Homo sapiens: one gene and its partner. The main gene of each other region encodes a partner of the protein of the gene in region 2 in a complex. Each region holds a gene or a part of one and is shown on either strand. Other genes may lie near its edges. A codon is read from its position in the direction of its gene.

Region 1 (7,649 bases), on a different chromosome or scaffold from region 2:
TGCAGGGGGCGCCTTCATTCAACAAATCCATGGTGTATCCACCATGTGCCACAGGCTCTCCAGACGTGGGCCAATGTGGCAGGATACAGTCCCTGCCCTTAGAGAGCTAACATTCTAGGTGAGAGCAGACAGGTGCTAAACAAGCAAATGAAACACAGGATAGTATCAATCCCTGATAACTTCAAGGAGGAAAATAACCCAGAGTGATGGAACAGAGGAAGCTGGGGGACAGGGAGTGACTCAAACCATGCACTCAGCAGCCAGGCCACCTGGATTCAAATCTGAATCTGGGTTCAAATGTGATATATCTTCCCTGGGCCTTGGTGTTCTCACCTGCAAAATGGAGATAACAGTTCCTACCTTAGGGTCATTGAAAGGACTAAATAATAATTTTTAAACATTTTTAAAAGGGCTAAGCACGGTGGCTCTCACCTGTAATCCCAGCACTTTGGGAGGCCAAGGTGGGGTGGATCACCTGAGGTCAGGAGTTCAAGACCAGCCTGGCCAACACAGTGAAACCCCATCTCTACTAAAAATATAAAAAATTAGCCCGGCATGGTGGCAGGCACCTGTAATCCCAGCTACTGGGGAGGCTGAAGCAGGAGAATCGCTTGAACCCGGGAGATGGAGGTTGCAGTGAGCTGAGATTGTGCCACTGCACTCCAGCCTGGGCAACAAGAGCAAAACTCCGTCACAAACAAACAAACAAACCAACATTAGCCGGGCGTTGTGGTGTATGTCTGTAATCCCAGCTACTCGGGAGGCTGAGGCAGGAGAATTGCTTGAATCTGGAAGGTGGAGGCTACAGTGAGCCAAGATCATGCCACTGCACTCCAGCCTGAGCGATAGAGTGAGACTCTTGTCTCAAAACAAAAACAAAAACAACAGGCTGGCTGGGCGCAGTGGCTCAGGCCTGTAATCCCAGCACTTTGGGAGGCTGAGGCAGGTGGATCACCTGAGGTTAGGAGCTCGAGACCAGCCTGGCCAACATGGTGAAACCTCGTCTCTACTAAAAATACAAAAATTAGCCAGACGTGGTGGCAGGCACCTGTAATCCCAGCTACTCGGGAGGCTGAGGCAGGAGAATCACTTGAACCCGGGAGGCAGAGGTTGCAGTGCGCCAAGATCATGCCACTGCACTCCAGCCTGGGTGACAGAGTGAGATTCTGTCTCAAAACAAACAAACAAACAATAAAAAATAAAAAATAAAAAATTAGCCATGGGTGGGTGGTACACGCCTGTGGTCTCAGCTACTTGAAAGGCTGAGGTGGGAGGATTGCTTAAGCCTGGGAGGCAGAGGCTGCACTGCAGCCTGAGCCACACAGTGAGACCATCTCCAAAAATAATAATAAGAAAGCACTAAATAAGCTCACACATCTACAAAATGCCTAGGACAGAAACTGGCACACATTAAGAGTGGGATAGCCTTTATTATCTCTATTGTATAGATGGCAAAACGGAGACCTCACCTTTTGCATCTCTGGGAATGGCAGCAGTGGGTAACGCTTCCTGAGTGTTTACTCTGTTCCAGGCACACACAGGGGAAGGCAGGAACTGTACTCAGGTACTTCACACCCGAAAGCTCTGCTCTTAGCTACTACACCGTGCATGGTGTTGCAGAGCTAGGAACCAGCATTACTGGTGGCCCGATGTTACCCAGGGAGTGAGGGGTATGAAGGAGTGAAGACTGTGAACAAGAAACTGGAAGTAAAGACCCTACTGGGTGCCACTCCAAAGGCTGACAGTTCGCCTGGGTGACATGGAGTGTCACCCATAAAGGAAGCCATCAGGGTTGAACTGAGCAGAAACAGCAGAAATGGGCCCAGAGCTGGGCAGAGCATCCGGTTTATGCTGGAGGTCCCAGCCACAGGCCAGGGCTAGAGCAGGGTGGGCGAGAGCGCGGGTTCCAGGTGCAAATGCAGCTGAGCTACTGACTCACTCTAAAACCTTGGCAATGGGCTCTAATCTCCCTGCACCTCAGTTTTCTCATCTGAAAAATGGGGAATAGAGAATAAGGAGATCAAACCTCATGGGGTTAATGAGGAGAGTCCATGTATCCAAACAGTTCACCAGAACCTGGCACTCAACCAAGGAGAATTATTATTGCAAATGCGATTGCTATGGGCTCTAGAGGCAGCAGAGTGACTCGGGACCTGCCCACAGATGCTGGGCCTGCTCCTCAGGAGTTTGCAGTGACACGGGGAGGGGGATTTGTAGGCAAACTGCCTAGGTCCTAATCCAACCCCCGGCCCCTGAAATGAATGATCTTGGACGAGTTCCTTCAGTTTTCTGACCTCAGTTTCCTTGCTGGTAAGGTGGAAGTAATAACTACCTGGCTCCCAGAGTTGCGGCAATTCAGAGAGAACTTAAAGCGCTTGACACAGAGAAAAACATGCCCTGTTACTGGCAATATTATCATTGTGGCTAACCCTTAAATCGGGCCTAAGCACAGGGGCCATCGTCTGGCAGAATGTCACGGGCGATGTCGCAGACTCAGCATTAGGTGTACACAGTAGGGGTGTTAGCAGGGGTAGGTTGTGGACCCGAGGCCGGGCAACACCCTACGCCCTTTGCAGGGTACTGGGGTGTCTCCCTCCCAGGGGTGCCCCCGGGCCCAGCAAGGTGCAGAGACGTCCCCCGGGGTGTCAGGTGCATTAGGCCGAGAGGTATCAGCCGGGCCGGCAGGGCCAGGGCCATCGCCCCGGACTCCCCGGACCCTCACCCGCCCAGCCCCCTGCCTCAGCTTCCTCAGGCTTCCCGGCGGCTCCTGAGGCTCGCAGTCCCCACAACAGGGCGGGCCGGGGCCGTTACCCCGGGGACGACGCGGAAGAGCCAGGACCCCATGGGAGGGAGGCAGCGCTGCCGCCGCGCCCAAGGGGCGAGCTCGAGCCCTGCTTACGCGGGCCCGCGCAGTCCCGCCCCAGCCCCGACCCCCGCGGCACCTGAGCTGCGGCTCATGCGCTTCTCCCAGCCGGGCGGCAGCTTCTCCTCGTCCGCCATCTTCCCTCCTGCCGCAGCGCCTGCTCCGCCTCAGCTGCGCCGCCTGTCGCCCGCGCCCGCCCGCCGCCGCTGCCTATTGGCTAGACGCGCTCTGCAACGGGGCCTGGCGGCGACGCCCATTGGGCTCCCTAACGGTCCGGATTGGCTTTCTGGCCTTCTATTGGGTAGAAGAAAGGCTGGGCGGACCCTCCCACGTTATCCCTGCGCCCCGCCCCCGGCCAGCCTCAGCCTGGCCCCGCCCACTCGCTCTCCTCGGCTCCTGAGTGGTCCGAAGCGACGCGGGCCCGCCCTTCTCAACGCCCTTTAGCGAGCGCCAAAAAACTCCCGACCCCTTCTTGGCGCGCGTCGCCGCAGAGCCCACCCAGGCGGGATAGAGCTTATGGATTGGCTAATGCCGCAGCAACTCCCGCCTGCCTGAGCTGTTCCCGGAGGTCCGCAAGCCCCCAGCCCTCCCATGCGGAAGAGTCTGGCTGGTGCAGAGGTAACGGCGGTCCAGGAGGTACTTGGGCGGGGCGGTGCTGCCTCTGCTGTTGCCATAGCAATGCAGTTGCCTTGGAGATGAGCACCTAAGTACCCGATGCTTAAATTTGGCTCCTCCATCCTCCCTCTTCCCACCTGTTTCCCACAGATGTCCAAAGCTAACCCAGCCTCTTTTATTTTTTGCAGGGCTCAACTTTTCCCTAGGCTCTGGACCCAAAGGCCTTCCACGTCCTTTGGAACCTGCTTACTTCCTTTATTCCCTCGCAGTCTGGCTCCTTCCTCCATCCTGGGTGACCAGTGGGTGCCGACATTGACATTCATATAAGAACACGGAGGAGGTGCAGGTGGGAGGAGATGGGCTCAGTTTTAGCCAACTTAAAATAGAGTCTGCAGAGCCCGTGGGACACAGGGGAGGTATTTGGGGACCCAGAGTTGGGGAACTGTGGGTAGATATGGGAGTTGAAGACACTGACAGCAAAGGGTGCAACTACAGTTCACCTAGCATAGAACCCTATGTGACCGTTAAAAAGAATGAGGCTCAGTGAAGTGAACTCATAGGGAAACCTGCCCACAACAAATTAGACGCAGGATGCAGTAGAAGGCTAAGAGAAGTCTGGAGCCAGACTTGGGTTTAAAGCCTGGGACTGACACTTGCTATGCGACCTTGAACTGATTACTTAACGTTACTCTGTACTTCGGTTTCCCAATCTGCAAAGCGGGGATAAGCAATTACATCCTTCTGTTTGATGTGAACATTAAATAAATTAATCCACATAAAGCACTCAAGCCAGGCTCGGTGGCTCACACCTGTAATCCCAGCACTTTGGAAGGCCGAGGTGGGTGGATAACCTGAAGTCAGGAGTTCGAGACCAGCCTGGCCAACATGGTGAAACCCTGTCTTTACTAAAAATACAAAAATTAGCCAGGCGTGATAGTGGGCACCTTTAATTCCAGCTACTCGGGTGGTTGAGACAGGAGAATTACTTGAACCTGGAAGGCGGAGGTTGCAGTGAGCCGAGATCGCACCACTGCACTCCAGCGTAGGTGACAGAGCGAGACTCCATCTCAAAAAACAAAAAAAGTTTAAGTTTTAATAGAACATTTTTTACAAGTATTAGCATAATATTAAAAAGATACTTTTTATAAAGATAATTTTAGACATGGGCAGTTACAAAAACAGTAGGGTTTTCATGTACCCTTCACCCAAACTTCCCTAATATTAGCGTCTTAAATAAACAATAGAACAGAATTCTCAACCAGTAGCGATTTTGTTTCCCAAGGGACATTTGGCAACATCTTGATACATTTTTGGTTGTTACAACACCTTCAGACATTTTGGAACAGGAGATACTACTGGCTACTGGCATTTAGTATTAGATGCCAAGGATGCTGCTAACATCCTTCAAGGCACAGCCCCCACCAAAAGAATTATCCAATCCAAGGGCTGAGTGTGGTGGCTCACACCTGTAATCCAGGGCTTTGGGAGCCCAAGGCAGGAGGATCGCTTGAGCCCAGAGTTGGGGACCAGCCTGGGCAACATGGCAAGACCCTATCTCTACAAAAATAATTCACTGGGTGTGGTGGCACGTGCCTGTAATCCCAGCTACTTGGGAGGCTGAGGTGGGAGGATCTCTTGAGTCTAGGAGTTAAGAGGCTGCAATTAGCCATAATCTTGCCACAGCACTCTAGCCTGGGTGACAGAGGGAGACTCTGTCTCAAAAAATAAATAAATAAATAAAAATAAAAGGCTGGGTGCGGTGGCTCACGCCTGTAATCCCACCACTTTGGGAGGCCAAGGTGGGTGGATCAAGAGGTCAGGAGTTCAAGACCAGCCTGGCCAAGATGGTGAAAACCCATCTCTACTAAAAATACGAAAATTAGGTGTGGTGGCGGGCGCATGTAATCCCAGCTACTCGGGAGGCTGAGGCGGAGAATTGCTTGAACCCCTGGAGTGGAGCTTTCAGTGAGCCAAGATCGTGCCACTGCACTCCAGCCTGTCTCAAAAAAAAAAAAAAAAAAAAAAAATCCAACCCAAAAAAGTCAACAATGCCAAAGCTTAGAAACCCTGCTATAATATAATTATCAACACTAAGAAACCAATATCAATATAATACTATTAACTAAACCACAAATTCCCCCCAATCCTGTTTTCCCACTAGTGTTTTTATGTTCCAGGATGGGTGCTCACTGTTCCTGGAGTGTCACTGTTTCTGGTCCCTCTAAGTGGATAGAGCAAGGAAATATACATATGTATACACACATCTATATGTATCAATATATCTGTTAAACGAAAACCATGAATTCAGACTGATGCCTCCAAATCCAGTCCTACAAGGTTCATTTTAAGCATTCCCATCTCCTGTTTTATTTGTAACTTCCTTCTCCACAGTGAGACACCCAGCTCTCATTATCTACAAGTTTACTTATTTGTTCAACCCTGTTTGTGTGTATTACATGGGCCCATGTGCCCACACCCACACACACAAAAGTAGTTTCAAAATTGCTAAATCATGGCTGGCCCAACGGCTCACACCTATAATCCCAGCACCTTGGGAGGCTGAGGCGGGCGGATCACTTGAGCTCAGGTGTTTGAGACCAGCCTGGCCAACATGGTGAAACCTTGTCTCTGCTGGAAATACAAAAAATTAGCCAGGTGTGGTGGCTCGTGCCTGTAGTCCCAGCTACTTGGGAGGCTGAGGCAGGAGAATCGCTTGAACCCGGGAGGCAGAGGTTGCAGTGAGCCGAGATTGCACCATTGCACTCTAGCCTGGGCAAAAAGAGCAAAACTCCATCTCAAAAAATAATAATAAAAAATAATAATTAAAAAAAAGCACAGAAAAGCAAACTATGGAATGTCATATAAATATTACGGGACATATAATTATCCCCGTATGATAAAAACTCTAGGTTATTCCAGAAAGTTTCTAGAGTCACTCAAATGTATTAATGCCCACCACTGGTGGGAGGAGTGGTATAAGAAATAAGAAATTCAGGGCCGGGCGCAGTGGCTGACACCTGTAATCCCAGCAATTTGGGAAGCTGAGGTGAACGGATCATGAAGTCAGGAAATCAAGACCATCATGGGTAACATGGTGAAACCCTGTCTCTACTAAAAAAAATTAGCTGGGTGTGGTGGCATGCACCTGTAATTCCAGCTACTCAGGAGGCTGAGGCAAAAAAATCACATGAACCCAGGAGGCGGGGTTTACAGTGAGCTGAGATCATGCCATTGCACTCCAGCCTGGGCAACAAGTGTGAAACTCCATCTCAAAAAAAAAATTTTTTTAATTTAAAAAATAAAACAGGACAGGAGCAAGGTTGACACAAAGAACTGTGGCCAGGGGAACAGAGGGACAGTTGGTCTCCTGTCTACTCACACCTAGAGGAAGAATACAGCAAATAACATTATGTGCCAGGCATCCTGCTATTCTAATTGCGTGGTCTCATTGAGATGTGGGTGCCACTGTAGTGCTCATTTTTAGAGGATGAAACTGAGGGTCGCAGAGGCTGAAATCCCACTGCTAAGGATCAATCAAAATTCAAATCTAGTCGGTCTGACTCTTGAGGCTGGGATCATGTAGCCACACTTATAGTGCCACACTGCCTCACTGTCTACTATCACGTTTTGTCTTGAAAAGAAGTGCTAGGGCCAGGCATGATGGCTTGTGCCTATAATCTCAGTACTTTGGGAGGCCAAGGCTGGAGGATCACCTGAGGTCAGGAGTTCAAGACTATTTTGGGCAACATAGGGGAGACCCTGTCTGTACAAAAAATTTCAAAATGCCAGACGCGGTGGCTCACGCCTGTAATCCCAGCACTTTGGGAGGCCGAGGAGGGTGGACCACTTGAGGTCAGCAGTTTGAGACCAGCCTGGCCAACATGGTGAAACCCCATCTCTACTAAAAATACAAAAATTAACTGGTGTCATGGGGCACGCCTGTAGTCCCAGTCTCCTGCCTCAGGTGAGGCAGGAGAATTGCTTGAACCCAGGAGGCAGAGGTTGCAGTGAGCTGAGATCGTGCCACTGCACTCCAGCCTGGGTGACAGAGCGAGACTCTGTCTCAAATAAAATAAATAATAATAATAATTTTAAAATTAGCTGGCGTGGTGGTACACACTGCCCAGCTACTTGGGAGGCTGATGCAGGAGGACTGTGTTGAGTCCAGTTC
Region 2 (3,693 bases):
CCTGTAATCCCAGCACTTTGGGATGCCAAGGTGGGCGGATCAGGAGGACCAGCCTGGCCAACATGGTGAAACCCCGTCTCTATTAAAAATACAACAATTAGCCTGGCGTGGTGGCAGGCGCCTGTAATCCCAGCTACTTGGGAGGCTGAGGCAGGCGAATAGCTTGAACCCAGGAGGCGGAGGTTGCAGTGAGTCGAGATCACGCCACTGCACTTCAGCCTGGGACAGAGCGAGACTCCGTGTCAAAAAAAAAAAATTGTTATGCCAAGTTCATGACATTGAATGTTGGAGTTCTGAGGTACCCTGTGGTGTCTGAGAGCATAGAGGAGGCAGCAGTAATGTTTGCTGAAGGTCAGACCGGGACAGACATACTTTAGATAGCTTGATCCAGAACTCTTAAGAAAATATGTTGAATTGAGTCTTTATACTTTGGTCTTTTTCTTGCCTGGGATATTGCTATGCAGTATGCCACTATTGCTGAGAGGTGGTTTTGTAGATGATGGAAGCCTGGCTGGGTGTGGTCAGCAGCACGTGGGAGCCAGGCTCAGCTGCCTAACCCTGAAGCCTTCTAAGCTGATTTTTCTGTAAAGGAGGATGCCTCGTCCTCCTTTACATCTGAACTTCTGGACGACTTTGATATTTGCATCTGGGCTGTACCCACAGGTGTCAGCGACAGGCAGAAAGCAGCGAGGTGGCTTTCTATTGAATGTTCCTGGGTGATGGAATGTGGATCTGGATGTGTTTGGCAGTGCTTCTCAAACCTTAATTACAGACACATCACCTGAGGATCTTAGATTCTGATTCAGTGGGTTTGGGGCGGACCCTGAGATTCCATGTGTCCAACAAGTATCCAAGTGGTGTCAATGCTGCTAGTCAGTATCATCCTTTGACAGGTGTTAGGGGAAGTTTGGGACCTCTTAGGACACCAGCAGCAGTCCTTCCATGCTTAGTGGGTGCTTTTTAAATTTTGTTTAAAAATTTGTTGCAGTGATGCCATTGATCAGATTTGGAGTCTCTGAATATGGTTAAACTGAGGCTCTCAAGTGAGAGTTTGAAGTTAAGTTTGAATTGTTAGTTAAAGCCTGAGACCAAGTATCTCTCTGATCAGCCTCATCTACGAGGCTTTTATGGATCTGGATCTTTCACAGATAATCTCCATAGTCAGATAATTGCTCAGAGATTAGTGGCTTGCCTGACGTTACACAGCAACCAAGAGATGGGACTAGACTGAGAAACCCAGTCACCTCTCCTCACTTAATGGGAAGAAAGCAGGATGTTGCCTAGCATTAGAATTTTTAGTCAGTATCCTTATACATTCTCCACGTTAGCAGCCATGTGATACAACTACTCTGTAGGAGGTGAGAAGGGCAGGGGAATAGGAGAGCAGCTGTCATGGTTAGAGGGGATAAGAGAAACTAGCATGGTCTCTGCACACACTACGAGCCCAACATGTTTAAGTAAGGGGACCTGTAACAAGGATGGTGGGTTTGCCATAGTTAATCAGGCTTCTGTGTTGGGGTGAGAGCATTCCTAGGGACCATTTCTTCTAACCCACAGAGGCCATCGGGAGTCTCCCACCCTTCTCCAAACAGAACAAGCAGCTCGTGCAACAGCTCCTGTGTCTGGTGCTGACACAGGCATGGCATCCTCCTTTTTGTTCCCCCAACCCAGGTCTGCTTCAAATACTTCTGCCGGAGCTGCTGGCACTGGCGGCACAGCATGGAGGGCCTGCGCCACCACAGCCCCCTGATGCGGAACCAGAAGAACCGAGATTCCAGCTAGAGGAGCTGGCCTTGCCCAGTGGCCTGTGGCGCCCAAAGCTGGCAGGTCAGGCAAGCAGCCTGCACCACCCTGCCACTGGCGACCAGGGAGCTGGCTTCCCAAGGACAAGGGAAAATTGTAGTCACCTTTGCACTTGCTGAATCTGTCTTTGTTTCTGCACTAATTAATGCACATTGAGTTTTGTCAGGTTTTGTTTTCAGGGGGTGTACCAAGGGCAAGGACCCTCTGGCTTACCCTCCAAGCGACTCTGTAGTTTTCCCAGATTTTAGTTCCTCATTTTGCAGATGAAAAGCGGGGAAAAAAAAAAAAAAAAAAAAAACTACGTGTCCAGAAGGTATTGAGGTATTGACACGGATGCCTACACCTAGGTTTATTTATTAAAAGCGCTTTTTTACATTCCTTGCAATACTGATGGTGATGATGCGCAGGTCTCATTGGTTTCATTCTTGCAGTTGCCATACAGTGCCTTTCCATTTATTTAACCCCCACCTGAACGGCATAAACTGAGTGTTCAGCTGGTGTTTTTTACTGTAAACAATAAGGAGACTTTGCTCTTCATTTAAACCAAAATCATATTTCATATTTTACGCTCGAGGGTTTTTACCGGTTCCTTTTTACACTCCTTAAAACAGTTTTTAAGTCGTTTGGAACAAGATATTTTTTCTTTCCTGGCAGCTTTTAACATTATAGCAAATTTGTGTCTGGGGGACTGCTGGTCACTGTTTCTCACAGTTGCAAATCAAGGCATTTGCAACCAAGAAAAAAAAAATTTTTTGTTTTATTTGAAACTGGACCGGATAAACGGTGTTTGAGCGGCTGCTGTATATAGTTTTAAATGGTTTATTGCACCTCCTTAAGTTGCACTTATGTGGGGGGGTGGGGTTGATAGAAGTTTTTAATCACAAAGTCACAGGACTTTTTTCTTTTGTAACTGAGCTAAAAAGGGCTGCTTTTCGGTGGGGGCAGATGAAGGCTCACAGGAGCCCTTTCTCTTAGAGGGGGCAAGTACCCTTCCCTTATATCTTTAATTTGAGGAATGTATGAGATAACAGTTGCAGTTGACTGAAATGCCACTGGAATTTGAAAACTTGACTTTTTTTTCTTTCCTTTTTTTTTTTTTTTTTTTTTTTAAAAAGAAACAAAAAACCCACAAAAACTACTTGCCCCTCCTAGGGAAGCTGTGTGCCAAAGAACCAGTGTCATAACCCCTCCCTCCTGCTGAGCTGACGTTGCATTGTTGCATATCCCAGCTACTCTGTGGGTTTTGTGAAGCTGTGTGTGAAGTCTCTACCTCATTGTAGTATATGCAGGCAAGACTGCACTCTCCTACAGATGTGTGGAGTAAGCTGTGGTGTAGTTTTTTTGGCACATAATAAACACGTTGCAGCAGAGTTCTGGTTTTGTCTCTGTGTTTGAGGTCTGGGAGCAAGGGGCTAACGGGAGGGAGTAAGGGGGTAATGGCACAGCCACAGCTTGTTTCCTTGGATTTCTGTGATGGAGATCCTGGCCCAGGATAATGGTGGGACCATGTGGGAGACCTGCCCTGTGAGTACTTCTTGGTCCCTTCCATCGTCAAATATACTTTGGAGATGCTTCTCCAGTGGATGGGTGCTTCTAGCCCAAATATAAAAAGTCCTCATATCTTAGCTTCTCGGGGGTCCTCACAGCCTCCAGGCCCAGCTTAGAGAATGCTGGAGGCACAGCTGCTCACGTGCCAGCAGAAGCCACTTGTTCTCAGCTTCTCCTGGAAGTCTTGGCCTATTACTTCTTCGGAGGCTGCTCATCCTCTTGGACCCACCTATGATGATGCAGTTCCTTTCTGAGAGGGAGTGATTGGGTTTTTGCTGTTCAGAGAGCCCTATCAACGGAACTTTCTCAGAGCTCACAGGATTTCTGGCAAGGTCTGCTGAT

The links. The genes of interacting proteins can lie anywhere in the genome.
Region 1: the proteins of CPEB1 (region 2) and PIN1 are in contact, whole or in part, in an NMR structure (PDB 2N1O), measured with the Homo sapiens proteins. Residues at the interface, in NP_001352172.1 of Homo sapiens: Arg206, Ile207, Ser208, Pro209, Pro210, Leu211, Pro212, Phe213; in NP_006212.1 of Homo sapiens: Arg17 (codon at 2,952), Tyr23, Ser32, Gln33, Trp34, Glu35.

What each region holds. Positions count from the first base shown.
Region 1 is NC_000019.10:9,830,696-9,838,344, reverse strand, and holds the start of PIN1 (peptidyl-prolyl cis-trans isomerase NIMA-interacting 1), read right to left. Parts: upstream 3,028-7,649; 5' UTR 3,001-3,027; coding exon 2,943-3,000; intron 1,523-2,942; exon of another isoform or gene 1,479-1,522; coding exon of another isoform or gene 1,470-1,478; intron 334-1,469; coding exon of another isoform or gene 270-333; intron 1-269. UniProt on the Homo sapiens protein: Peptidyl-prolyl cis/trans isomerase (PPIase) that binds to and isomerizes specific phosphorylated Ser/Thr-Pro (pSer/Thr-Pro) motifs.
Region 2 is NC_000015.10:82,542,681-82,546,373, reverse strand, and holds the end of CPEB1 (cytoplasmic polyadenylation element-binding protein 1), read left to right. Parts: intron 1-1,671; coding exon 1,672-1,782; 3' UTR 1,783-3,173; downstream 3,174-3,693.